Homo sapiens: one gene and its partners. The protein of the gene in region 1 interacts with the protein of each later gene in a pairwise test. Each region holds a gene or a part of one and is shown on either strand. Other genes may lie near its edges.

What was found.
Region 2: the proteins of ZNF76 (region 1) and FHL2 interact in binary tests that used the Homo sapiens proteins (3 or more experiments, as listed by UniProt).
Region 3: the proteins of ZNF76 (region 1) and KPNA3 interact in binary tests that used the Homo sapiens proteins (3 or more experiments, as listed by UniProt).
Region 4: the proteins of ZNF76 (region 1) and LHX4 interact in binary tests that used the Homo sapiens proteins (3 or more experiments, as listed by UniProt).

The regions. Positions count from the first base shown.
Region 1 is NC_000006.12:35,276,735-35,283,734, reverse strand, and holds part of ZNF76 (zinc finger protein 76), read right to left. Parts: intron 2,680-7,000; 5' UTR 2,584-2,679; coding exon 2,511-2,583; intron 1-2,510. UniProt on the Homo sapiens protein: May be involved in transcriptional regulation.
Region 2 is NC_000002.12:105,361,052-105,368,051, reverse strand, and holds part of FHL2 (four and a half LIM domains protein 2), read left to right. Parts: intron 1-312; coding exon 313-482; intron 483-4,580; coding exon 4,581-4,767; intron 4,768-6,617; coding exon 6,618-6,769; 3' UTR 6,770-7,000. UniProt on the Homo sapiens protein: May function as a molecular transmitter linking various signaling pathways to transcriptional regulation. Negatively regulates the transcriptional repressor E4F1 and may function in cell growth.
Region 3 is NC_000013.11:49,789,660-49,797,200, forward strand, and holds the start of KPNA3 (importin subunit alpha-4), read right to left. Parts: upstream 3,024-7,541; 5' UTR 2,848-3,023; coding exon 2,779-2,847; intron 2,410-2,778; exon of another isoform or gene 1,733-2,409; intron 1-1,732. UniProt on the Homo sapiens protein: Functions in nuclear protein import as an adapter protein for nuclear receptor KPNB1. Binds specifically and directly to substrates containing either a simple or bipartite NLS motif.
Region 4 is NC_000001.11:180,225,746-180,233,283, forward strand, and holds the start of LHX4 (LIM/homeobox protein Lhx4), read left to right. Parts: upstream 1-4,518; 5' UTR 4,519-4,784; coding exon 4,785-4,860; intron 4,861-7,538. UniProt on the Homo sapiens protein: May play a critical role in the development of respiratory control mechanisms and in the normal growth and maturation of the lung. Binds preferentially to methylated DNA.

The DNA of each region.
Region 1 (7,000 bases):
AAAGCATCAGCAAGCTACGGCCAGCAGAGTGGGTACTGCTTCAAGGTAGAAAACAAAATGTTGAGAAGAGTTGTCTGAAGAAAAAACTTAGCCTACTATTTCCTCAAACAACCAGAGACTACAATGGAGAGAGGCAGTGGGGAGAACAGCTGACTGACAAGGGCCTCATATCCCATTACAGAGAGGTGACCATACGCCCCAGTTTGCCTGGAACAGTCCTAGTGCATTTATTAATAGCACATTCTTCCACTTTTAAAATGCTGGGTTTGAATAATACATTTTATACTCATCCTAATTAAAGATAAGTCTCTTACAATTTTAGGGCTTCCAGCAGACAGAGACAAAAATGCCTCAGTCAAAAGCTTCAGAGGAGAAGTCAGAGAAGCCTTTCAGGAAAGTGTGGTTCTGGTCTCTGAAGGAGAGCTCTACCCTGAGCAGAGGGAAAATCTGTTGTGAGTGAGTGTGTGTTTGCATATGTGTGTGTGTAAGTGCACACTGCAACACTACAGAGTGGGCAAAGAACAGCCAGGAAGACTGACAGAATAAAGAAATACGTAAGAAGGATAGATATAAGGAAAGAGTGGCTCTCTCAGGTCAGGTGTGGTCACTTGCTTTTTATTCATTTGTTTGACCATTAATTCTCAGTGGAAGACTGAGGCACGGGAACTAACTGGGTCCAAGGAGTAAACACAACCCTAGCTAGAGTTCTAAGTTCTTCCATCCCATGGAGACTGCACTGGAGGGGCAAGACCTGGAGTGGGAAGTCTGCAAACAGAGAGTTTCAGGCTTCAAAAGCATTCTAGAGAAGTTGCGTTCTCAAGAAGATGAAGCCAACAAGAACCCACATGTCACAGACAGCTCTTGACAAGAAACCTTTCCAGAAGGGACCCCCACACACTGTCATATGGAAAGTGCTTACTGATGAGATTAAGGGGACTCCTTAGTCATCATCAGGAAACAGACAACTTAAAATGAAATCAATAAACAACTTATCTGTAAACTTAGGAGCAGAAATATATTCTGAGAGTGTGTTGAAATAAAGGAGGGCAATGTTGCAATGACAGTGCTTCAGGAGGACAGTGACAATCATGGAGTCCAGAAAACGCCAAATGAACAGTAGGAACAAGGCAGTATTTGCCTTGTTCAAGGTGCTGTCCAAGGAAGACACGAATGCTATCTGGCTGCCTGAGAACACTGGCAAGAAAGGAAAAGTGTCCCTGGCCTGCAGGCCTTGCCCTAAACACTTTATTCTGACTCCACACCTACCTTGATTTTAAGTACCTTCAGTGTAAGGATAGAATTGCCAGATAAAATACAGGATGCCCAGGTAAATCTGAATTTCAGATAAACAATACTTTTTTTTTTTTTTTTAGAACTTGGTATTATTATTTTAGTATTTTATAGTATTTAACACCCCCTACTTTTTTTTTAGATGGGGTCTTGCTGTTGTCTAGGCTGACCTCAAACTTATGGCCTCAAGAGATCCTCCCATCTGAACCTCCCAAGTAGCTGAGACTACAGGTGCATGCCACCAAGCCCAGCTTAATCCCACATTTATATATGTCTATCCCTTATAAGGGGTATATGTATGTCCCTAGTATGTGGTATACATACGTCCCTACAACATTTGGGATGTATGTATCCTACAAGAGTATTCATTGTTACGTCCAATTCAAATTTAACTACATGTCCTATATTTTCAATTCTGGCATCCCCTAGTGGGGATTAGGGCATGAGATCTCTGCTTGGGTGTTCCTCTCTGAATCAGGAAGAGTATCTTTTTTTTTTTTTTTTTTTAAGAGATGGGATCTTGCTCTGTCACCCAGGCTGGTGTGCAGTGGTGCAGTGATAGTTCACTGAACCCTCAAACTCCTGGGTTTCAGTGATCCTTCTGCCTCAGCCTCCTGAATAGCTGGGACTAAAGGTGCATGCTGCTGCACCCAGATTATTATTTTTATTATTTTTTTTAGAGACAAGAGTCTTGCTATGTTGCCCAGGCTGGTCTCCAACTCCCGGCCTCAAGTGATCTTTCCATCTCAGCCTTCTGAGTGCTGGGATTATAGACATGAGCCACTATGCCTGGCTTAAAAGAGCATCTTGTACATGGCAGATGCTTAGTAGTTTGAATGTTTGAATATACTTGAATTAAGATGATAAACTGCTTCTAGAAAGCACTAAAAAACTGTGACAGGGGATATCTGAAAAGCAGGGAGTCATAACTAACACTGTGTTCATTCCAGAAATATTTATCAACTGCTTATTACATATTAGGAATTCTGTCTTTGAGAGGTATTGGTTCCTATGACTGGGATTGTCTGACTTGTAGCATTTTATTTTAGAGTTCCCTTTTCATCAAGCACCACAGGAGATTCTAATGCAGAGCAAATTGTGGTGGTGGGCAAGGGTAAGCAGGCGGGAGGGCAAGGTGATGGTGGGACTCTTAGAAATGGACACTCCTTTCCAGAGGCTGAGGGACAGGGCAGGATCCTGAGGTCCCCAGAAATACTTACCTTTGACAGCTTGCTGGACGTAGGCTGTTGTCCCATCACTAAGGGTCACCGTGTGCAGCCCCAAGCTCTCCATGGCAAACTGCTGCTCGTGCACTCAGACATGAAGTTGGCTTCTGGCCAGCACCAAGAGCCACAGCTGAGGTCAGAGATTTCCTTCTGGGTCACAAATCTAAGAAAATAAACAGTATCACATTATGAGTTAACCAGCTTTCTCCTATCGCAAAGACACTCAGGGAAGGAGTTAATGAGGCCAGCCAGCCAAGAAGAAAAAAGATGAATTCTTCAAAGTAGTGAACTATATTGGTTTTTATGAAAAGGGCTCAAAATACACATTATCTAAGAATTCTAAAAGTTAAGCATAGAAGAGAAGCATGCCAATCAAACTGGTCATAAAGTAAGAAATCACTGATCAAAACCCATTTCTAAACTTTCTCCCCTTAGGAAGGAGCCCTGCTGAAGGCAGGCAGTTAACCCCACTGCTGATGGTTCTCTCTGCCTACTCCAACATCTCTCCTGTGCTCGGACCCATTTATCTACTGAGCTTGTTAACCATCCTCAGGGAACATCCCACATGTACCACACGTGGAATAAGTCCTCAACAGAACTCACAATGTGTCCCAACCTTCCAGAACTATTGTACTTCCAGTATCCCCTATCCCAGGGGTGGTATCGCCTTCCACCCAGAACTTCAGGGCGGGGGGGGGGGGGATCATGCTTGAGTCCTCCTTTTCCCTTAAAAGTCCAGGTACTTATTTCAGGCATGTCTCACCTTTCACCTCTGGACAACTATAAGGAGCCTTATAACTTATGTCCTCAGATAAACTTTTGTCTGTTTCCAATTCATTTTCTTTTCTTTCCTTTTTTAGAGACAAAGTATCACTCTGTCGCCCAGCTGGAGTGCAGTGGCTCCATCACAGTTCACTGTAACCTCGAACTCCTGGGCTCAAGTGATCTTCCTGCCTCAGCCTCTTCCAACTCATGTTCTAACATTCATGTTTATGCTGTCAGGGTGAATTTAAAAAAAAAGCTCTCTTCCCACTATCTTGGAGCCTGTAGAGGCCTGCTGAGAACAGGACTTCCAAAAGGCAAATATGGGCGGGGTGTAGTGGCTCATGCCTGTAATCCCAGTGCTTTGGGAGGCTGAGGCAGGAGGATTATTTGAGGCTAGGAGTTCAAGACCAATGTGGGCAACACAGCAAGACATTGTCTCTACAAAAAAAAAAAAATTAGCCAGGTGTAGTGGCACATGCCTGCAATCCTAGCTACACAAGAGGCTGAGGTGGGAGCACTGCCTGACCCCAGGAATTTGAAACTGCAGTAAGCTTTGATCATACCACTGAATTCCAGCCTGGGTGATAAAGAGACTCTGTCTCAAAAATAATAATAAGATAAATACAATACATTTGGAAGGCTGTAGTCCAAGGCCATTTTTTGCTAGCTGTAAGTGGGGCCTCCAGAACCAAAGCGAGGACACAGCTCTTATTAAAATTGAGGTATTGGCCAAGTGCGGTGGCTCACGACTGTAATCCCAGCACTTTGGGAGGCCGAGGACAGTGGATCACGAGGTCAGGAGATTGAGACCATCCTGGCTAACATGGTGAAAACCCATCTCTACTAAAAATACAAAAAATTAGCCGGGCGTGGTGGTGGGCACCTGTAGTCCCAGCTACTTGGGAGGCTGAGGCAGGAGAATGGCATGAACCTGGGAGGTGGAGCTTGCAATGAGCCAAGATCGCGCCACTGCACTCCAGCCTGGGCGACAGAGCGAGACTCCGTCCCAAAAAAAAAAAAAAAAAAAAAAAAAAATTGAAGGTATTTATGCTCGAAATGAAACTAATTCTATTTAGGCAAGAGATGTACTTACATGTATAAAGCAAAGAACAACACACTGACTGCTGGCAGCAAACTGAAGAAAACCAGCATAATCTGGGGAAAGGTAAACTCAGGCCCATGGAAACAGTGGCATGGTTTGTGCTAAATTCCCAAGCAATCTTGCTAAAGCTATTGAACACAGAATCTGTGTGACGCTGTGCCCCTCAAGGACTTAAGCTAATGAAAAGTAAATAAATAAAAGTAGATTTATAAGAAAAAAAGAGTACAAATCTAAACATACCACTTCCTTGACTAAAACCCTTCCATAGTTTCCTACAGCTCTTAGAGTCCACCTTGCATACAAGGCTGGGTTGTTATAAACTCCCACAGCCTAGGTACCACCTTTTCCTAGCACTCACACCTCTGGGCTCAACCTACTTCAGTACTCATCACTATCTGTTTAATGTCCGTTGCCTACACAAGGCTTTGGGCTCTAGCCTGGTTTCTGCGTCACAGTGGTTTCTCCAGCAACTCACACTGTGGGCTCTCCACACATCCTGTGAGTGACTCCCTGGGTCCCTCATGTGCAAGGTGGGAAGCACTGAAGCTTCCTGCTGGCAGGATATCTTCTGTACCCACTGTGGTGTGCAGCCTGCTCTAGCAGTGGACCCCAACACTTGTGAAGCCTGCAGGAAGCCCACGGCCTCTAAACTCAGTGCAGTCGTGAAGACTCTCTTTGACATCCATTCTCAAAATTCTCCTGGACTTGGAATCTGGACTGCCTACTGGATTCTCACGACTTACCAACCGATATCTTTGACTGGTGCTACCCAAACTGTTTTCATGTCAGGGGACCTAGAGAGACAGATATTTGTACATTGCATTGCAGATGCTGCTGCTTAAAGTCAGAAGTTCACATTGCAGATGTCACTGCTTCAAGCCAGAAGCGACCAACTGGGGCTTTGACAGCCCTGAGGGGCGAGCGGATCAATATCTTGGCAAAATTATAGACCATCCAGGAGTTCGAGACCAGCCTGACTAACATGGAGAAGCCCCGTCTCTACTAAAAATACAAAATTAGCTGGGCATGGTGGCACATGCCTGTAATCCCAGCTACTTGGGAGGCTGAGGCAGGAGAATTGCTTGAACCTGGGAGGCAGAGGTTGCGGTGAGCCGAGATCGTGTCATTGCACTCCAGCCTGGGCAACAACAGCGAAACTCCGTCTCAAAAAAAAAGAAAAAAACAAAACAAAAACTGGCTGGGCGTGGTGGCTCACACCTGTAATCCCAGCACTTTGAGAAGTTGAGGCGGGCAGATCACAAGGTCAGGAGATCCAGACCATCCTGACTAACAGGGTGAAACCCTGTCTCTACTAAAAATACAAAAAATTAGCCGGGCGTGGAGGGCGCCTGTAGTTCCAGCTACTCGGGAGGCTAAGGCAGAAGAATGGCATAAACCTGGGAGGCGGAGCTTGCAGTGAGCCAAGACTGCACCACTGCACTCCAGCCTGGGCGACAGAGTGAGACTCCGTCTCAAAAACAAACAAACGAAAAACCCAAAAAAACCTATAGACCAACTGCGACACGCTGATTGGAATGCTCTACCCCAGGCATGGCATCTCAACTAGAATTATTCATTCATTCTGTCCATAAACATTTACTAAATGGGCTAAGGTGCAAGGGCAGCAATACTATTATATAGTGAACACTACTATAGAGTTAACCACGTGCTAGGAATGTCACATACATTAACTCATTTAGTTCTAACAATCCTACAATCAAATGCTATGATTATCCTCATTTAAAAGTGAGGGAACTGGAGGCCCAAGACCAAGTTAAGTAACTTGCTCAAGGTTACACAGCTAACTAGTAAAGGAGGATTTCACCCTAGGCCATTTAATCCAGAGTGTGACCTTAATTACTATGCTGCGAAGCACAGAGGTGAAGCTGGGGGTTTATGAAACTTGAAGCTACTCCAAAATACTTTTTTGGTGTGTGAGCCTTTGCATTTTCCAGGAGAGAGGGAAATCCAAGGCTGTCATCAGGGTCTGATAGGGATTAATGGTGAAGAACCACTGGTCAAGGTGGGGATTCTGACATCTGACATCTCTGGTCTATTAGCATCCTTGCCCAGAGCCCTGATAACCTCCACGTGGTCCCTGTCTCACAAGAGCTCTGCTCCTGGCCTCTCTTGGTCTGCTCTGACCTTCAAGCTTCACTCTCTTCATCAGGTAGATTCTTTGGGTAACCCGCTTTAGTGTAACTGCACTGTGTCAGAAGACACATAAGAGAAACCAGGTCTAAAAACAAAGCAGGCTGGGCACGGTGGCTCATGCCTGTAATCCCAGCACTTTGGGAGGCCGAAGTGGGCGGATCACTTGAGATCAGGAGTTCGAGACCAGCCTGACCAACATGGTGAAACCCCGCCTCTGCTAAAAAAAAAAAAAAATACAAAAATTAGCCAGGTGTGGTAGCACATGCCTAGCTACTTGGGAGGCTGAGGCAGGAGAATTGCTTGGACCCAGGAGGCGGAGGTTGCAGTGAGCCAAAATTGCATCACTGCACTCTAGCCTGGGCAACAACAGCAAAACTCTTGTCTCAAAAAAAAAAAAAAAAAAAAACCCATAAATAAATAAATAAAAATAAAAACAAAGCAGACATAGGTTGAAAAGGGATTG
Region 2 (7,000 bases), on another chromosome or scaffold:
TTGCATTGCTGAGAGAGACTTAACTTTTTTTAGATTTAACATTCCTAACCACGGTATTCAATAAATAAATGTTAAGTGCCTAAAATGTACACGTGTTGTTCTAGGAGCTGGGTGTACAGTAGTGAACCAAAAGACAAAGTCCACGCCCTGCACAAAATAGGAATTACCTCCATGTAGAGGCGAGCCTTCAAGAGCTGAAGTGGCTTGCTCTGGTCATAAAACTAGAGGGCAGCAAGCTCTGAAGGCAGATTGCTGGGACTCCACACCCCTCTAACCATAACTCTGCTGTGTTCCTCTTGACCCTGATGACAGGTACCCGCAAGATGGAGTACAAGGGCAGCAGCTGGCATGAGACCTGCTTCATCTGCCACCGCTGCCAGCAGCCAATTGGAACCAAGAGTTTCATCCCCAAAGACAATCAGAATTTCTGTGTGCCCTGCTATGAGAAACAACATGCCATGCAGTGCGTTCAGTGCAAAAAGGTATCTCAGATGCCCCCTTGGCCCTTGCACGTTCTGGCTGGTTTGCCTCCATGGTCCATGTCTGTCAGTTCTCTTTCCAAAACCAAGGATACCTGTGATACTTAAGTGGCGTGGGAGCTGTGCCTGTCCTGCCTTACATTCTGAGCATTTATCCATCGGGTCTGGGTGTCCATCCTTCTTTCAAAGACATCAACATTGTTGAGCTCTGTGATCAAATCGTTTAACCCTGCCTTCTTCTAGACCATTTCTAAATATGTTCTTATGTTGATAACCTGAGGTTAGAGGGAAGGGGAGCCACCATCCCAAAGCTGTCTTGTTCAGCTTCTCTCCATGAATAAAACAAGAAAACAACTGCAAACTTGAGAGGGAGAGAAAGATGGAAGGAAGAGGGAGGAGAGGAAGGGAGGAGAGAGAGACGGATGTGAGAAGAAAAGTAAAGGAGAAAAGTCTGCCTCCATGGATATGGGACAGATCATTTATTAAATGTATCTACTCTGGCCGGGCATGGAGGCTCATGCCTGTAATCCCAGCACTGTGGGAGGCCAAGGCTGGTGGATCACCTGTGGGAGGCCAAGGCTGGTGGATTACCTTAGGTCAGGAGTTCAAGACCAGCCTGGGCAACATGATGAAACTCCATCTCTACTAAAAATACACAACTTAGCTGGGTGTGGTGGCACACGCCTGTAGTCCCAGCTACTCAGGAGACTGAGGCAGGAGAATCACTTGAACCCGGGAGGTGGAGGTTGCAGTGAGCCAAGATCCCACCACTGCACTCCAGCCTGGGCGACTGAGCGAGACTCCATCTCAAAAAATTAAAAAAATAAATAAATAAACTTATCTACTCGATAATGTGCTATTCCAGTCATGGCTCTGTTAGGGTTAAAGAAAGAAAGGGAACTGCATATCTGTAGGAAGCCATCTCTCTGCCCAGTTGCCCCCCGACCTGCACCCTTCAGGGTGTAGCTTAGTTTTCTGCTGTGCCCTCTGACTCTTAGACACACGCAATTCTTATTATGCTATAGCTTCCAGCGTCTCTGTCCTGTTAGGATTTGCATCAGCCTGTTGAGTGGCACCCTCCCACTGCTCACTCGCCCTGGGCAGCGCCAGCTGTGGAACTCATCACAGGTTCTGTTCGCTCTCCTCCTGTTATTGACTCTGCTCACCCAGCTTCTGCTGTTTTGCCCTTGGGGCCTCTACCCTTGCGTCTGGGCCATGGAGAAACATCCCCAATGCTGCTACCTGTACCTGGCTGGCCTGGGCAAGAATATCCCCACCTTGCCCACACCTTTTCTAAGTGCTGAGTATTCTTACCAATTTCCATTCAGTCTTTCTCTCATTTCCTTTTTTTTTTTCTTTTTTTGAGACAGAATCTCACACTGTCGCCCAGGCTGGAGTGCAGTGGCTCGATCTTGGCTCACTGCAACCTCCGCCTCTTGGGTTCGAGCAATTTCTCCTGCCTCAGCCTCCCAAGTAGCTGAGATTACAGGCGTGCGTCACCATGCCCAGCCGGTTTTTTTTGTATTTTTAGTACAGACGGGGTTTCAACATGTTGGCCAGGCTGATCTCGGAACTCCTGACCTCAGGTGATCGACCTGCCTCCACCTCCCAAAGTGCTGGGATTACAGGCGTGAGCCACCATGCCTGGCCCCATTTGTTCTTTACTGTTATTTTAAATTTTATTTCTCTTTATTTCCTCTCCTTTTATGCTTCTGTTTTTTTCTTTTTTTGAGACAGTTTCACTCTGCCACCTGGGCTGTAGTACAGTGGCATGATCTCAACTCACTGCAACCTCTGCTTTCTGGGTTCAAGTGATTCTCCTGCCTCAGCCTCCTGAGCAGCTGGGATTACAGGCAGGTGCCACCACCAAACCCACCTAATTTTTTTTTTTTTTTTTTGTAGTAGAGACGGTGTCTCACTTTGTTGGCCAGACTGGTCACAAACTCCTGTTTTTTTCTTTATTCTTAGATTGAGCTCTCATTCCTGCTTTTATTTTAGGAACCCTCTTCCCTGTTCTCTCCCCTTTTTATTTTTATTTTGGTTTGTTCTTCTCATCAAGACCTAACGGAAGTTCATCTGAGTTGCTCTTCCTCTGTCATCTTTCCAATGTGTGCTTTATTCATTTGCAGAAATGAAAGCAACACATCCTTCTGGGATGCATGCTTTTTGTGTGCATGTTCATTAAATACACAAAAACATTCATGCCAGAAGCATCCATTCCTCGACATGAACTTGGCCCTCTCAGGCACTGGGGATCTGATGCTGGACAAGATGCAGACACTTAACTGTAGTCTAGGTGGAAGTACACTCCAGTGTCAAACCCGTCAGTAGTTACTGAGCAGTGTGCTATGGAGGAGAAGAGCAGAGTGTGGAATGGAGGGACCTCAACTAATCTGAGGAGTTGGGGGCCAGGGTGGTGTTGAGGGAAGGAGTCTCTGAGAAAGTCATGCTATGCTCAGAGGCATTGAGTTAGCTGATGTGGGTGGGAAGCATGGAATCCGGAGCAAGGGAGGACTGAGGACACATGTTGCAGGCAGAGATGTCTTACACACACAGGCTACTGCATTCACATGGATACGTTGCAACCAAGCGTGTTTGGTGTTCATTCTCTTGTGCAGTGGGGTGGGTTATACTAAGATGCTTCATGATTTATGGTTTAATGAAAAGAATACAAGATAGAAGGGAGTCCAGAATTCTAGTTCCTGCTTCGTCATTAACCAGCTATGAATTCTTTGGCAAGTCACTTTTTAATTTCTCTGAGTCTCAGTTTACTCATCCATAAAATTAAGATAATATCTTTCCTACTTCACAAGCTTTATGTAAAGACCAAAGGAGTTACTGCATGATACTGAAATGTTCAAAAAATAAAAAGCAAAAAAGTGTGATTGTGAGGTGCTTGCACTCCATCTTCCACAGCCTTCGTTTGCCAAGCTGAGGCCACCTACACTCCTCTCTGATAGCTTACTCAGCTCCACCAAGCACTCATTTTTAAATAGAATGTGAGATGCAACATTTGGAGAAAAATATCAGGTAAAATTGAGGTACTGATGGCCAGTTCCACCTCATGTGGCTTTGCAGCTTCACCTCACAGATGTTCTAAGACCACAAGACAGGTGAGAATGAAGGCATCCAGCTTATTTTTCCCAAAACTTCCAAGATGCCCATCTCTTCTTGTGGCATCAGCAGGTGCTAGTCCCGGCTGTCCTTTAAGCCTCTTCCTTCTTTCACCGTAAGTGGCTGGAGAGACAGGCTCGTGAGTGGCATTGGAGAGGTTACCACTTGCCAGGGTTTTTGTTTTGTTTTGTTTTGTTTTGTTTTTGAGACAGTCTCACTCTGTTGTCCAGGCTGGTGTGCAGTGGCATGATCTTGGCTCACTGCAACCTCTGTTTCCAGGGTTCAAGCGATTCTCCTGCCTTAGCCTCCTGAGTAGCTGGGAATACAGGTGCACCACCACACTCAGCTAATTTTTTGTATTTTTAGTAGAGATGGGGTTTCGCCATGTTGGCCAGGCTGGTCTCGAACTCCTGACCTCAAGTGATCCACCTGCCTCGGCCTCCCAAAGTCCTGAGATTACAGGTGTGAGCCACCAGCCCTGCCAGGCTTCTAAGTAAGGACTCCTCATCAACTTGCCCAATTAACCTCATCACCCTCACTTCCTGGATGAGAAAACTGAAGTGCAGAGATCTTTATCATGACCTGCTCCCAGCCACAGGGCTGGTAAGGAGTAGGGTTAGGATTCAAACCCAGGTCTCCTTGATGCTGTATTGAATCCCGACCCCTCCACTGTGCTGCTTCCCTGCTCAGAAAGGTGGCAACACCACTGAGGCACCCTATGCCTTAGATCCCCAGCATCCCTGGGAAGGGCTGAGGGCAACCCCAAGCTCCAGTTTCACTAACGGGAAAGCCAGGGCCTATGACACTGGAATGAAAGCGTGTGGTGAGGGTGACGAGTGACTGTGAAGTTTGTAAAGCAGCTTCTTGGTGACTTAACAAACTGGACGTTTCTGGATGAGGATCTTGCATCGTCCAGTGGCAGTAGCTGAGACTGAAGATGTCTGCCAAGCACAGAGGCCACACTAACTCTCCCCCTCGTCCCTGCAGCCCATCACCACGGGAGGGGTCACTTACCGGGAGCAGCCCTGGCACAAGGAGTGCTTCGTGTGCACCGCCTGCAGGAAGCAGCTGTCTGGGCAGCGCTTCACAGCTCGCGATGACTTTGCCTACTGCCTGAACTGCTTCTGTGACTTGTATGCCAAGAAGTGTGCTGGGTGCACCAACCCCATCAGCGGTGAGTGTCCCGGGGTTCCCATTTCCAGGGGCGATTGGAAGCTTGAACAAGGCCTAGCATTTTAGCCTGTGACCCTGTCTATATCCCTCAACTCCCCAGACCTCCCTAAGGCTCTGAACACAGCAGACTTTTCTGCCTATCTGCTTTCCTCTCCTTGGTGCACTGGCTATGCTTCAGCAAGTAATGATTCCTTCCTCTGCAGCCCACCTGATCACAACCATATGGCCAGTGCTCCAGTTTAGTTTCTGCTTTGGGTTGGATTATCGCTAAAACTGCAGTCTGTGAGCCTGTGACATCACAAAAGCACAATAAAAACTGGCCTTTTCAGGCTTAGCAGCTGTGCTGTGTTCTTAGAAGTGTCCCCTAGCATCTTAGTGGGACGGTTGTACTCCAAAACATCTTAATGGGAAACTTCTACCACAAGGCCATAGCTATATGAGGGCAGAGGGTACATTCTAAGGAGTTTTTCATATTGTATTCCCCCAAAGAATTCAGCTAAGTGAGAGCCCAAAATCTGGCTGGCTGGCAGACCAGGCTTCTGGACTAGACTATTAAGCAGGCTGGAGAAATTCAGTGTGGAGAACAGAGGAGTTCACACTAAAGTCCTTTAAATGGTCACCACATATCGCTACACAAATGAGTGACTGGGTGGGGAGAGAAAAGTGTGTGTTCTGTAATAACACAGGAGAAGTTTTATGATGTGGGATTTGCAATCCCGTTGCATTCAGTTGACTGGTTCGTTCCTATCAGAGGAAGGTGGCAGACACTTGGAGTACCCGGTGGCCTGGCTTTCCTGTGTGGCTTTTCAGTGTAACTACAGAAACACATCTATACACCCCCTGTGTACTTGTCCTTGACTTTCCTTTCCCTTAGGCCTAGAACCAAGTTCACCTAACTCAGCTAACTCACCTTCCCAGGTCGCTAAAACAGTACTCTCATGTGTAATGCAGAGCTCATTACATTTCCATGTGAAATTAAAATATGAAGAAAAGCACAGTATTTACACTTTACCTATGTTAAAATATCTGTTTCTGGTCATTTATATACCAGATTTCCCTTGGAATCTTTTAGGGGGAAAATGTAATCTTTTGCCAGAACATATTCATCTTTAATGCTGTTTTCAGCAGTAACTTCTGTTGAGGTAAATGTTTATAACATTAAGCTTTATAAAGTGATACAATCTATATAAAAGCACTTTTAAATGTAAAACATTAGATATGAATGTGAATTGTGGTTATTGTGGCACTGAGAAAAAACACTAGGTAAAAACCAACTGTATTATAATCACGGACCAATGTACCTTAAATATTTGATTCCATTCTATCTGTCTGCAGCTTTCTCAGGATCTTCCCACTGCGACAATATCCCTCTCCCCTCATTCCCACCCACATCGCACTTTATCTGTGAGGCCTTTCCTGGCCATCCCAGGGAGGATTAACCTTTTCCTCTTCTACACTCCCTTCACTGCTTCAATCATTAAGTCATAAAAATTTGAGCACCAGGCAACGTGAGGCACCTAGTGAAGACATAAGAGAAATCTGCTCCCTCTTCTCATGGAGTTTCATTTTGTGGGAAAACACATAACAAATACACAGTCAGCATTCTTTGATCGCACTTATCCCATCGTTTTGGAACCAGTTTATATATCTCTTCTGATATTCACGAGATCCTCCAGGCTGTGCATAGAATCTGATTTACATATGGATTCCCAACACCCAGTCACTAGAAATTCACATTATCCATATTACACAATCCAAACTTTGAAATGGATCAAACCAGAATTCCTTCTTCAGTCCCAGTTGCCTGATTCTAACTTTCTTCATCCGGTATTATTTTCTCTCTGTTAACAGGACTTGGTGGCACAAAATACATCTCCTTTGAGGAACGGCAGTGGCATAACGACTGCTTTAACTGTAAGAAGTGCTCCCTCTCACTGGTGGGGCGTGGCTTCCTCACAGAGAGGGACGACATCCTGTGCCCCGACTGTGGGAAAGACATCTGAATTCAACACAGAGAAGTTGCTGCTTGTGATCTCACACACAGATTTTTATGTTTTCTTTCTCACCCAGGCAATCTTGCCTTCTGGTTTCTTCCAGCCACATTGAGACTTTCTTCTAGTGCTTTTCAGTGATACTCACGTTTGCTTAAACCCTTTAGTGCTTTGTGATAGTTCAGTCCCAGGGAAAGAGAAAACTCGCCCTAGGCCCTAGGTGGGAAGATGGTTTGAAATTTT
Region 3 (7,541 bases), on another chromosome or scaffold:
TAATGGACAAGACTAAGCATGGTTATCTACTCTTAGATATGCCTAAATCCCCAATAAAGGCCCTTCATCAGATTTGACCCCAGTTTACCCTTTAGTCTCTCTCTCTCCTACATTTCTCTCAGGACTCTTCAATTACTGCTCCCTCTAGTCTGGAATGCCCCTTTCTTCCACCAGCCTTCTCCCGCCCTTTGCCTGGCCACCTTTCTTTCATCCTTCACAATCAGCTCACTCCCATTCATCCATTAGAAATCAACCAGAGTATCTTCCCTTTCTGCTCACCTCCAAGTAGTTTTTTTGGCATGCATTTTCGGAATACTATACTGTAACAATTGTTGTTCTGCATTGTAATTATCACCCCCACTGGACTGTAAACTCCCTGAAGTACAGACTGCATCTTATTCCTTATCCCCAAGACCTAACATTGATAGATACCCAATAGACAATTAGTGAATAAATAATACCCATATCCACTGAGTGACATGCACAGGCTACATAAGCACACTGAGGTTTTTTATCTAAAGTTCCAGCTGGGTGTGACGACTAGCATCTGTAGTTCGAACACTTTGGAAGGCCGAGGCGGGAGAATCACTGGAGCCCAGGAGTTCAAGACAAGCTTGGGCAACAAAGCGAGACCCCGTCTCTAAAAAAGATTAAAAAATTAGCCAGGTGTGGTGGTGTCCGCCTGTAGTCCCAGCTACTTGGGAGGCCATGGTGGGAAGATTCCTTGAACCTAGAAGTTTGAGCTTGCAGCTGAGCTATGAGTGCCTGAGCACTCCAACTTGGGTAAAGGAGCAAGACTCCGTCTCAAAAAATACTTTACTCATGTAAAGTGGGGATAATGCCACACTTCATATACTTGTTACACAGATTAAATAAGGTATCATGAAGCTCGTAACAGTGTCTGCCACATTAGAACTACCATTTGAATGTCTATTTCATGTTTTAGTTACACTATAGAATCCCGAGAAATGTAATGTTGTGACCAATACCAGGCTGAATGGCTTAGCAACCATGCTCTTTTTCATGCATCTAAAAGTCACGGGTTACATTCTTATCAGCAAATATTTGTTGTGTACCTATTATGTGCAGGAGTCCTTACTAAGTATCACTGAGCTACCAGAACACAATAGAGGTAAACAATGAAACAAAAACCTGTACCAATATCCGAGAGAAGAATGTTACTGGTTTTTCTGTACAAACAATGAGTATTTTTCAATAAATTTTTATTTGGAACAGGATAGGCTTCAAGAAAAATTCCTAATGGGAAAAGTTCAAAATTAACACTTGTCATCAAGTGGACCAATAACAGGAGGCAGTTCCAAAATTTCTTGTTCCTATTCCCAAGTTTTACTTTCGCTTAGATGTATTTCTTACAAAGGGTATTTAACCATGACCAGGAAAGAATATATGATCTTTATTTGACTCATTTAAATGGGAATTCCACGGATATCTCCCTAGGTTCTTTCCTACTAGTATTTAATTTTGTAGCTCTGAAAAACGGCCTGAGTTTGTCTGTTTCTCTACAAAATAGAACACTGAATGGTATATTTACCCCACAACCTTCCTTAAGACAGGATAAAACACACCTCTTAATCACACTAGCTTATCAAAAATTACAAAACTGCAAATCATGTCGCCTAGTATTAGCAAAGAAGGCTGCGGCCTTAAAACCATTTTCCCCCTAACAAATCCAAAGGTCACGGTCCCAGTGAAGTTTGTGCATTATACTTACTGTTTTCAGTAGCTGCAGAGAGACCTCTAGCGCTGCCTCAATAAGCCGAGTTTGCAAATAGTACCTGCTAATGTCACCTTAATGAGACAATGGCAACATGCTGAGTAGCAACTAACTGAGTGACCGCGATGAATGTTTAGTTTTGCAACCACTTGGAAATTCTACTAGCTTGGAGCAAGAGGTATGTAAGAGAATTATGAACCTGTGTATCCAATTTATTTTAGTAAAACGTGTCAAAGAAATTATCACCCTATGCACACCCCACTCCAAGAAAGGCTAAGAAAACAAGTCCTATGAGCGGAGGTCGGAGCAACCTCTTTTCCGAAGCCTGAACACAATAGATGGCAAACTATTGTCCACCTTCAGCTCGCTCCAAATGCCAGCAGTTGCAGGAGTATGAGCTGCAACAGCTCGGCACGACTAGTCCAAAGACGAGCACTGGAATATAAGAAAATGGTCCTGGCGCATCCTACCCTCCCCCATCGATCACCCTCAAACAAGTCAGTTACCCGGCTGGTCCCCACCCCCCTCTGCGGGCCGCCACCGCCCGCCTGGGCCCGGCTCGCAGAAGGTAGGAGCCCGGACCGGCAGAGCCGAGGCTCCATGTGAGCCGCGCGGGAGGCGCAGAGGGGGCTGCACCGGACGGAAGGTTGCACCGGTGGCGGGCGCAAGCAGCGGCCGCCCCCTCGGCTGTGCGGTCGGAGGGCCCGGGCGGCAGCATCCCCGTTCATCCGGGCGGCCCTGGCCCGCGGACCCCGCCTCAGCTCCACATCCCCTCCTCGCCGACACCAGGCCGCGCCCGCGTGACGGGGCCGAAAACGCCGGCATTTCCCGGTCGCCGCGCCGGCAGCTCCGGGGGGTGACTGCAGCCCGGCCGGCGTCTCGCCGCCCGCTCCGCCCAGCCCGGGGCCGCGGTGACGGGAGGCGGCGGCCAACTCCGGCCGACCACAAGCCGACGAGAACCAGCCCGGCGCCGGCCCCCCGCCCCTCCCCGCGTCGCCGGGCCGGCGCGGCCAGGCGGGCCCAGACCGCGGAAGCACACTCACTTCCACATCGCGGCCCTTGTTCTTGAAGCTCTTGATGCGGTGGTTCTCCAAGCTGGGGTTCTCGGCCATGGCTGCGCGCGGCTCCGGCGGCGGCTACTCCTGCGGCTGCGGCGGCGGCGGCGGCGAATCTTGGAGCGGGAGGGGGAGGAGGGGGAGAGCGGGAGGGGGGAGGGGAGAGAAGAGCACGTTCTGTGACGCCTCCGAGCGCGAGGTGGCAGTAGCGCCGGGGGAGGCGCGGGCCGACTGCCGGGCCGGGTGGGGCGGGAACGGTGCTGAGAGCGGCGCGCGGCCGCGGAGGCTGGCGACACGTGACCGGGGGCGGTGACCGGCTTGGGCGTTCGCCGGGCTATACGTGCCCGTTGGTTCTCGGGATGACCCTGCCCTCTTCCCCTGCAAGGGCTCTCCACAACCCCTCGGTGCTGCAAGTTTTGTGCCAGAAATGGAGCCGGACCTGGCGACTTTTACTGCCCCTCAGGCGCGGGGCGGCGGTCGTCAACTACAGTTCCCATCATGCCACGATCCGCCTGGAGTAATTCTCCACGCCTAGTGAGAACGAGGAGAATGCCGGGACCCTTCCGCGCGCGGCTCTTTGCGCGCCGCGCTCATGTTGCTGGGCACAAAGCTCCGCCCCCACAAGGCCGCCTCTGGGCGGGGAAGAGCGGGGGAGCGTCCCTGGCACCTTGCGCCCTATCAGGAGGAAGAGGGCGGGCCTTCCTGGGAGCGCACCTCGCTGCCTGTAGCTAGAAGATCAGAAAAGGAACAACCGCGAGTGCTTTGCAGTCTCGCTTTTTTGGGGGTCTTCTCAAATAGCCACCTTCATTCGCTCTTCCCATGCTCTGCTTCAGTTTTATAAATAGCATTTCTACCTGACATGTACATGTGTATGTATGTGATACGAGTGTTTATATGCGTTACCTAGGTGCCCGCGCGGAAATTCAGCTCAATGAGAGCAGGTACTTTGGTTGAATTACTGCTGAATCTCTAGTGTCAAAACAATGCCTACCACGTCGTAGATACGCAATACTTGTTGAACTGGCGCTTTAGTGTCGCCCAGTTTCTTCATCATCCTTCCAAGCCCGGTTCTGCAACCTTCACTCTGGCAGTCCCTGTATTTACATGCCCCCCAACACTTCTTGTTCTACCACCACACAGAATCTTAGCCTTCAGGCAGCAGCCCAGCCCTGGTCCGCAGACTCTCCTGTGTAGCACTCCCACTCCCTCTGGGGGCATCGAAAGAATGAAAGAGGGAAATTTGGATGGATTACACTGATAAAGAGCTGCTTTCGGCCGGGTGTGGTGGCTCACGCCTGTAATCCCAGCACTTTGGGAGGCCGAGGAGGGCAGATCACAAGGTCAAGAGACCGAGACCAGTCTGGCCAACCATGGCCCGCATGGTGAAACCCCTTCTTTACTAAATATACAAAAATTAGCTGGGCGTGGTGGCGCATGCCTGGAGGCTGAGGCAGGAGAATCGCTTGAACCCGGTAGGCGGAGGTTGCAGCGAGCCGAGATGGCGCCACTGCACTCCAGCCTGGCGACAGAGGGAGACTCTGTCTCAAACAAAACAACAAAAACAACAACAACAAAAACAAAAAGCTACTTTCTGGAGCAGGTGGGCTTCATTTGCTTGTATGTTAATTTTCAGAATCTATGGTAGACATGAGCAGGTATGTAATGTTGTAGTACTTATAATTGAACTGAGGTCAAAAGTTGGTAGGACTATACCATGAAGAGATCAAAAAGGACAATCTTTAAAGCGAAAGGGCCTTGGCTGGGCGCGGTGGCTCATGCCTGTAATCCCAGCACTTTGGGAGGTCGAGGTGGGTGGATCACAAGGTCAGGAGGTCGAGACCAGCCTGGCCAACATGGTGAAACCCCACCTCTACTAAAAAAAATACAAAAATTAGACGGGCATATGGCGCATACCTGTAATCTCAGCTACTTGGGAGCCTGAGGCAGGAGAATTGCTTGAACCTGGGAGGCGGAGGTTGCAGTGAGCTGAGATCGTGTCACTGCACTCCAGCCTAGGCGACAGAGTGAGACTCCATCCCCAAAAAATAAAAATAAAAAATTCAAACAACCCAACAAAAACATGCAAAGGACACTGATCACAGAAAAAGAATAAATATATGAGGAGATACAGAAAAAAAAAAAAAAAAAAAAGCGAAAGGGCCTTAAAGAACCTGAGGCCCAGAAGTCAGGAATTCAGAAGCCTTTGGTGGCCAAGCTATGTCCAGGGGCATTCGTCTTGTGAGTGGTGGGGTGTGGCCTATTGATAAACACAGGCTTCAGATCCTCTGGTCATACTGGACTGTGGCCCAGTGTTGCCAGAAGATTCCACTTTTCAAGGAAAACCAAAAAGGTAGATTCTTTTTCTCTTTATTTTTAAATGTTAATTCACATTTTGTTAATGGACTTAAGCATTTCAGTCACTTCAGAATATCAGGTCCTCAGTTTGCAACACCTGATCTTAGTCTAACCACTCATTTGAAGGGAAACACACACACACACACCAGCTATGAATTTAGAAGGAATACATTAGGCAGGGCACAGTGGCTCATGCCTGTAATCCCAGCACTTTGGGAGGCTGAGGTGGGAGGATCACCTGAGGTCAGGAGTTTGAGACCAGTCTGGCCAACCATGGCCCACATAGTGAAACCCTTTCTCTACAAAAATACAAAAATTAGGCAGGCATGGTGGTGCATGCCTGTAGTCACAGGTGCTCAGGAAGCTGAGGCAGGAGAATCGCTTGAACCTGGGAGGCGGAGGTTGCAGTGAGTTGAGATTGCGCCACTGCACTCCAGCCTGGGTAACAGAATGAGACTCTGTCTCAAAAAAAAGAAAAAAGAAAGAATACATTAGCTCAACTCTGGGTTTTAAGGAAACAGAACTTGTGTGTTTGCCATTCTCCTTGGCTAAATGGAAGAGAAATTTTCAGACTGTTGCTCAGTCTCTATTATAATTTAGTAGGTATTCCCTTTTCAGGTTACTTTATGCCACCTTTCTTCACACCCAGTCCAAAGCAGGGCTGCCCTTTTGCCTGGATCTAGTTTACTCATTTTTATTCTTTGCCAGTACCCCTGGTAACTTCAGCATTCACAAATGTGGCACCCTGACACCACAGTCTTTCTACATCCTTAACTTCACCAAGTTTTTTACCACTCAAGTGGTAAAAAGTGCAAGCCTGCACCAGACCTTGGAGACCTTAATCTCTGGGAAATGACCACCTCCAGGGACTCAAATTTGGTGCTTCTCATTGTTAGAAACTATCTCCTTCTCTTTTGCCTCACTCTAATCATCATCCTTGGCCTGAAACTTCTCTGGACAGCTCTTCTTTTAAATGGATTTATTTTCCACACATATTGTGAGTGTCTACTGTATACCAAGCATTGTATTCATCGGGCACATGTATGAAGGACTAGGGGGTCTCGGGGGAGACAGGAAGGAAGGGCCCTCAGCCCAGGGGTCAATCAAATCCTCTGACTCACTCTCCACCTTCCCAAGGCATGGGGAGTCATGCCAGCAGTCAGTCAGGTAGCAGTATGCCGTAGGCAACACAAGCATAACAGATGGGAAAAGGACTTCATGATTTGCCTCCTAAGTCAGCTTCTTTCTGCAAACTCACCCCTCTATTACTGGCATAACCATTCTTCCAGGGACACCTCTCCAAGCTAAGAGCCGTCTTTACTTCTTGTCTCTCTCCCTCAACTCCCTCACCTAGTCACCATGTTAATTCACCACTCAGTGTTTCTGGCATCTCTCTCTTCTTCCCATGCCACCCACGAGACTACCTTAACACCTCCTAAGCAGTCCACCTGCCTCCCCAATCCCTCCACAGCAATCTGACTCACTTCTCCAGATCTTCCTGACTTCATCTCTGCTCCCAATCAGCATACCCTTCTCCTCTGCCATTGTCTGTCAAATCATTTATAAACTCAGTCTAGGGCCAGGCTCCGTGGCTCACGCCTGTAATCTCAGCACTTTAGGAGGCCGAGGCGGGTGGATCACCTGAGGTCAAGAGTTCAAGACCAGGCCAGGCGCAGTGGCTCATGCCTGTAATCCCAGCGCTTTGGGAGGCCGAGGCAGGTGGATCACGAGGTCAGGAGATCGAGACCATCCTGGCCAACATGGTGAAACCCCGTCTCTACTAAAAATACAAAAAAATTAGCCAGGCGTGGTGGCGGGTACCTGTAGTCCCAGCTACTCGGGAGGCTGAGGCAGGAGAATGGCCTGAACCCAGGAGGCGGAGCTTGCAGTGAGCCGAGATCAGGCCACTGCACTCCAGCCTGGGCAACTGAGCAAGACTCCATCAAAAAAAAAAAAAAAAAAAAGGAGTTCAAGACCAGCCTGACCAACATGGTGAAACCCCGTCTCTACTAAAAAAAATACAAAAAGTTAGCCAGGCACGGTGCCAACGCCTGTAATCCCAGCTACTTGGAACGCTGAGGCAGGAGAATCGCTTGAACCTGGAAAAGGGAGGTTACAGTGAGCCGAGATCGCACCACTGCACTCCAGCCTGGGCAACAAGAGCAAAACTCCACCTCAAAAAATATACATATTAAAATAAATAAACTTGTCTAGTGGTTAAGATCATATGTGATGCAGCCACAGTGCAAGATACTTTTTTCTTATTTTTGGTTCCCCTGCACATTGCTCATGCTTCAGCTAACATGTTCTGCTCACCTTTTTCCAAGTATATCTTAACCTTTCCAGTTTTTACATCTTTGCCATTTGACTTGCTCAGATGGCCCTGCCTCTGTCTC
Region 4 (7,538 bases), on another chromosome or scaffold:
GTCTTGCCTCTGAATTGGATCCCCTGACATGTTGGGTTTGGTTTCCAGAAATGGAATGTATAAATGTCTAGCAAGTACTGGATACTTTGTACTGGCTATTGTTCAAGTTCTCTGACAGAACTTAGACCTGAAGAAAGCCACATCACCCCACCACAGGCCCATCCTCTAGTGCTCAACCTCCAACCAGGTCCTGGCCCAAAGGGACATGGCTGGCTCTGAGGAACATTCCTGGGAGGTCACCTGCCAGCCCTGGGTGCATTGTAGTGAGAAAAGCCCTGCTGAGTCAGCTCAGGGATTTTAATCCAAACTGAGTCCCACCCCAAGGGTCTTTCTGGGCCATTCCATAGTAGAGATTAATGGACTTCTGTGGGATTCAGCCATTCTCCCATTCTCTGGGGGTAGAAAACAGCTTAGCCCCTGCTAGCCTCGGTTTTTTCATCCACCAAGTAGGTATGATGAAACCATGCATCAGTTCCTCATGAAGAATAGGTAGAATTATGCAGGTAGAAGCACTTGCCTTGGTGCCTAGTACAGTTGCAAACTTTCAATAAATATTAGTTATTATTACTACCATATGCTACTATGTTGTTATTATTATTATTATTACCATCAACAGCAGTAGGCACTAAAATCTGTTTAAGGAAAGCTTTTTGCTAGGGGTTCCTCATTTGCAGATGGGAAAGCTGAGGTCCCAGGGGAAGTGAAGCGTCTTGGCTGGTATAGATGCTATTGGAGGACCTTGGGAATGGGACCCAGCTCATACAAGAGGCGAATGCTTTTAGAAAAGCCTCAGAATGGCCGGGCGTGGTGGCTCACGCCTATAATACCAGCACTTTGGGAGGCTGAGGCGGGTGGATCACGAGGTCAAGAGATTGGGACCAACCTGGCCAACATGCTGAGACCCCCGTCTCCACTAAAAATACAGTAATTAGCTGGGCGTGGTGGTGCGCACCTGTAATCCCAGCTGCTCGGGAGGCTGAGGCAGAATAGCGTGAACCCGGGAGGAGGTGGAGCTTGCAGTGGGCTGAGATCACGCCACTGCACTCCAGCTTGGGCGACAGAGCGAGACTCCGTCTCAAAAAAAAAAAAAAAGAAAGAAAGAAAAAAAAGCCTCAGAATGTGGAAAGGGCATTTATTGGCTGAGCTGCACTGTGTGTGTGGGCATGGGGGTGCAAGGTATGTTGGAGCTGCTGCTTACAGGTGCAAGAACTGAGAGCTAAGCTGACTTTCCTGGGCTTGTCTGCCAAACGACACAGGTGAAAGTGGTATCCCCTGAATCAGTCTTGGGCAGAGATAAGTCCCCACCACAGTAAGGCTGTTCCTCACCTACTGACAGGCTAGTGACATGCAATGGGAAAAGGGCAGGACCCCAGCAGGTTCAAATCAGAGAAGCAGGAGCTGCAGAGAGCATTTTTAAAATATAATTTTAAATTATAAAAGTAATTACTATATATGCTTTACATTCACTGCATTTGAATGTTATCTTTTACTAATGTTACTGAAAAATAATCACTTTACAGAAAATCTGGAAAAGAGAAAAAGGAAAAAATTCCATAATACATCTCCCTAATATACCTTTTTCCAAATATTCTTTTGAATAGTATTTTGGTATCTTTCCTTACCTTTTCCCTAATATTTTAAAAAGCATTTTATTAGTTTTTTTCTGCTTTATAAAATAATGTGCTCATTGAGAAAACTGAAAAAAGCGAAGAGAATAAAATAAAATATCCACTGCACAGATAACCACTTTTACACTTTGGCATTTTTTTTACTCCTCCTAAACAATTTTTTATTGAGGTAAAATATACATATAATTTACCATCTTTACCATTTTTAAGTGTACAGTGTTTATGCTTTTTTTAAGAAAAGTTCCTGAAGTTCATACCGCTTCATATTCTTTTTTCACATTTCCTAATAAATCTCAAACCCTTTTCTACATTAAATATTCTTCTGTTGTATTATTTCTAAGACTTCATAACATTCCATTTTACTTAATAATTTACTGTAACTTATTTACTATCCCCTATTGTTGGATATTTAGGTTTTCCCTTTTAAAAACCTTATAAACATCCTTGTAACTACATCTTCACAAACATTCTTGATTATTTTCTTTGGATAAATTTCTATAGAGATTGGGTCAAATGCATCACATTTGTAGCCAAAACGTCCTGAGAAGACATTTCCCCTCTTTGCAATCCCCACTAGGAAATTGTTTTCTAATTTCCCCACAGCCTAACCAACAATGGGTATTATCATTGCCCTTACATTTGACTAAGATTTTTACATATTTATAATCCTATGCTATTGCATTGTGCTTTTAAAAAAAATAGTATTTCACAAGCATCCCCATGTTATTGGGTTTCATAATTGGTTTCCATGATTCCATAACATACTACCAAACAATTTAATCTACTTCCCTAAGCCACTTTTCTTTTGTTGGCTATTTAGGTTATTTTTCTCCAAAACATAATACTGTAATAAACATTTTCACGCATGAAACTTTTATAAAAAATTCTAGATTATTTCCGTGGAACAGACATTCAAAAGTACTACATAAACTAAAGGGTATGAAAAATTTATGAGTTTGATACATATTGCCAAATTTCTTTCCAAACGGATGTTAAGAGTTTATAAGCACCCAGCAGTATTGGTGAGTGTCCAAGCCCCTTTCGCCAGTCCTGAACTCTAGGATGCCCCTCCCGCGCGTCGGGCATCTCACAAACAGAAAAAGCTGTGCACGTGTTGTTTTGTCTTGCGTGTTTTTCACTGCAAATGAGGCTGGCGTTTCCCCGTGTTTGCTTACTAGTTATATTTCTATAGAACACATTTTGGTAAACACTAAAAATGTCACTGGGTTCTTTTGCTTTTTTCTTCTTGTGTATATTGTCTCGCGCGCGGAGTCACCTCGCAGGTAAACAAGGGAAGAGATGATGCCAACCCAGTACCAGGACACACAAAAGTCACTGTGACCTCATTGGAGACAAATTCTAAGCAGCGCAGACGACCAGGCCATTCTCCCCCGCCCCATGCTCCTCCCTTAAAGGTGAGCAGGTGTCCCTTGTTTGGAGATGACACCAGGGGAAACAGCAGGGAAGGTTCTGGAAGGCTGGGGAGGGCACACAGTCCCCCTTCCCGCCTAAGCTGAACCCCACTAGGCTGGAAGGACACGTATGTCTGCATTTCTGGAAGGAAATGCCGTGGGGGCTGGGGGCAGGAGAGCGGCTGGGTCTTGGGGCAGACGGGGTGGGCTTCCCGCGCCTGCAGCCCGGAGGCGTCGAGCGCCTGATGGAGCGTCAGAGGAGACCTCGTCCCAGCGTTGGGCCTTCTGTTGTATTTCTGCCAGAAACTCGCGTTGAGGAGAATTTGTTTTAAGCGTTTCTCTACCTGTCCATGCATCTCGTAAATACAGTAAGCATGGCAAGCCCTTTCGCTGGTTAACCCCGGCGTCCGTGTGCTCACTGCCGCCCTGCACGCACGAGGTCGCGGATGGTTCAAAGCACCCGCGGTGGCAGCCGGAGAGGCAGAGCGGGCTCTAGGGACCTAAGACAGGGCCGAGCTGGACGACTGGTGGCAGGGCGGCCGGGGAGGCCCCGCCGCGGGGAGGTTTGGGCCCCCTACCCTGCGGAACTGGAGGCAAGTGCGGACTCCGGCTGCAGGCCGCGGTCTGCGGGGACGCGCGCGGGGGGCCTGCGTCCCGCCACCTCCGCGCACAGCCCCTGGTCCCCTTCCCCAGCCCGGGCCGGCGCCGCCCGCCGCGTGACTCGCGCGTTCCGGGCCGAGTACGGGCTGTCCCTTGGCCCAGCCTCAGCCAGACGCGGGGGAGAGAGAGCAGGGGCTGGGAAGTGCCGGCAGGAAAGGAATTGGCCAGGGGAAAGAGGAGGAGGAAGATAGATGGAGTCATCGGTTACGGAGCGCGCTCCGTCCGGCGGAGCGAAGCCGGGGACCGAGAGCGCGCAAGGCGAAGACACAGCGACGCAGCCCCGTCCCCGGCCTCCGGACCGCCTGCCCCGCTCGGCCCCGGCTCGGCTCCGCCCCGCCCCTGGGTCCGAACGGAGGAGTGAGGAGGACACGAGCCGCGCGGGCTTGGAACCCACGAAGACCCGCAAACCCAGGGCGCCGCCGTCTCCGACCACCTGCTGCCGCGGCAGGCCATCAGCAGAATTTATACCCAGGGCGCGAGCCCGCCACGGCTGGGCGGAGGCGGAGGCGGAGGCGGGGAGGGGGGGGGGGTGCCGGCTTGCGAGGCCCCGCCCCGCTCCCTGCCGCCCCGCCCCCCTCCGCCCCGCCGGCCTCACTCGGGGCGCCGGGACCCCCACTCCCTCCGGGGTCGGCTGCCCGCCGCCGGGTTGGGGGATGTGCCGAAGGGCGGGCCTCCCTGCGGAAAGCGACGTCACGGCCGCTCCTGCAGTGTGAATGAATCAAAACGCCCGGGTGACCGCGGCCTCCCGGGCGGCCGGCACGCGAAGGGTGGAGGGGGAGGGGGAAGGAGCGGGCGGGGGAGGGAAGAGGAAAAAAGCCAGAGCTGCAGCAACAGCGTCTCAACCTGGGATGTGCACCAACCCCGGAGAGCGAGATCAAAGGGACTGGAAACAGACTGGGGACTGGCGGGGGGAGGGGGCCGGCCAGCCTGTGGAGTCCTCCCTGAGAAGCGGAGGGCCCGGCTTCCACCGTGACTCCAGCGGCCTGCTTGGGGTTTTAATTATTATTTTGAAATTTCTGAATCGAGCTAGAGCGAGAGAGCGAGAGATCTCCGTAGACTGCGACTCGCTGGCTTTCGCTCCGAGATGATGCAGAGTGCGACTGTCCCCGCGGAAGGGGCTGTCAAGGGGCTCCCGGAGATGCTAGGTGTGCCGATGCAACGTAAGACACCCCCCTTTCTCGCTGATTTAATTCTAACAAGACAGCTAGCAGCCTCAGCCGCTGCGGGGCGGGCCGGACGCCGCTCAGGGGCCGGGAGGGGCTGGCGGCCGGGGCGCAGAGGCGGTCACAGGGCAGGGGCACCAGCCAGAGTGCGTTTGAGGGGGCCAGGCTCTTGGCTGTTTGGGGCCGAATGTGAACGCCTCCTGGATCATGCTTGAGGCGAGCCGAGTACCGAACCCCGCATCTCCAGCCCAAGGCTTTTCTTGGAACGCTGGGGAGAGTGCTGTTTGGGGACACCCAGGGGTACGAGCTGTAGGCCAGGCCTGAGGGCGAGGGTGGTCCCCACAAATCTTCTTTCGCCGGCGTGACGGTCAGCGCTTGCAGGACCGCTAGTGCAACTTCACCCCAGCTGGCGGGAAGTTGGAGAGCGCGTCTCTCGCCCCTGGGGCTGGCGGCGGAGAAGCCCCGGCCACACTCTTAGTCCCTGCGGCCCGCGCCCCGGGCGTGCGTGCCGGGTGAGTCCCCAGCCGCTACTGCCCGCGGCGCCCGCCGCGTGCGCCGCGGGAAACTGACTGCTCCTTGTGAGGGAATCTGCTCGCGCATTCCAGCTAGCCTAGGAATGCAGGGGAGGGAGAAGCGACCGCAAGTTGTGAATTCCGGGTTCAGCCTTTGCGCACGCGAGGGCAGGTGCTCAGGGTGGCTCGGGTTTGGAGGGGTAGAGACGGGGGTGTGTGGGAGCTTTGCTAGCCTGCCCGCCCGCTTTCTTCCCGCGCCCGAAATTAGCGAGACAGCCGGAGCTCGCGGCGTGTTTATCCCCAAGTCTCTCTCTGTGTGTATGGGTGTGCGCGCGCAGAGATTTTCCCGAAGGGAATCCGTCTCTGTGCTTCACTCCTGAGCGAGAGTCCCCGAGAGGGAATCTGTGCAGAGGCCAGAACAGGTGCCCAGTCGTCGCGCGCGCGCGCGCGCGCGCGCGACAAGCGCCGGGAGAGTCCTGCCCCTGTGGCTTGCACGCTCAGCAGGGCGCCCCGGGCACCCTGGAGAGACCAAGGAGTTCCTCGCTCCGCTTGCCAAGGGGTTGTACTTCCGCCTGCGACTTCTTTAGTGGTGCGGTAGCTACATCTTCGGGGTTTACTTTAAGTAAGGGCCGGCTCATCCAGGGATGGTGACTACCTACAAACTAGGGCGCACGAGCGCGCCCTCCTGCGCCTCGGGTTTCCATGGCAGGGTTTCTGTCCGGCGATCCTTCGGAGGGCAGGCGTACCGTAGGCTTCCCTGGGAAGTTTTTGAGAAGGGACTAGAAAAGAATAGCTTCATCCAAGCCTATTTAGATTGTTTCTTGGCTGTATTCTACAGTTATTCTTTGAGTGTTTTCGTGTCAACTGCCGGCAATCAGTTCCACGTCTGTGTTGAGCCTTGGGGAGTTTACCGCTAAGATGTTTTCATAGAAGGCATTGGAGATTCACTACGCCCCACACCCCGCACACAGGCAGGGACAGAGTGGGTTCTCAGCCCCTGCAAAGACGGAAACAGAAACCCTGCAAAGGTGCACCGAGTCCTTAAGCTGCTTGTAGCTCTGCGCGAGTGAGGAGACTGCATGAGTGGGGGAAGGGTGTGTGTGTGTTACTAGTGTCCTTGGTACCCAGTACGTCTGTGCTTTCATGGCTGTGGTCCGTAGGTGACCTGTCTGTTGGGACCCCAATGAAGGACGATGGTCTCTGCTCTGACGGCCTTTCTTGTGATGAGTGACACTCTGATTGTCTCACTTTTTGCCTTCCCTGTTCAGAGACAACTTTGATGTTCGACGTCAGGGAGTCGCTTTGCTAAAATGCCCAGAACTCACCTTCAGAGCTACAGTTTGCCAAGGCTGAGTCTAGGTTCACACTGTGGAAAACTTGAGGTGTACAAAGGAACTTCCACACCCACCCCCCCAGGGTGGCCCAGGGAGGCAATGTCTAATCTAGAGGGGGTGGTCAGTCCTCCCTTTGTCCGAGTTTCGTGACCTTGGTTGGAGGAGGCATCGGCCAAAATTGAGGGGCCCACTCCCTGAAGACTTCTGGATCCAGCTTTTATTTCCTCTTGGAATGTGAATGGATTGTAGCCTCCCTTGCAGCACATCTGGCCTCTGGCTGTTAGGCTGTTGGTGCTGGGACCGCGGGATAGGTCCCCATCACCCACATATACACAACTATTAGTTTTCTTGGGACTGGGCCCAGTGGCCTAAGAAGGGGGGAAGCTCGAGGGGTTGTGGGGCACACCCTTGGGCCTTCCGGGACAGTAGGCTCTTAAACCCTAGAGGAGGGGAGACAAAAGAAACGCTCTCCCACAGGGGTCCCTCCAGTCGCCAACTAGAAGGGTTTCCCTCTCAACACAGACATGTTTGCCTCTTCATCACATGGAGTCACCACGAATGGAGCACTTGGGGACGCAGGTCTAGGTGTCCCCAAGCTCGGTGCCTCTAGTGCCCTCCCCTCTAGGGGCATTTTAGAAGAAGTGATTTAAATCCAGCTTATTTCGGCGGCAGCTGGACTATTCCTTTGCTTATTTGGGGATGGGTGAGGGGCATACCCTTTAGGAAAACGTTTCCAAATGATGTAATAATTTCTCTCTCATCTCTGGTCTTGCTCCAGACTTGGCCTCTTCCTCGCCACTCTGTCCCGGCCTCCCGCCCCCGCAGGCTC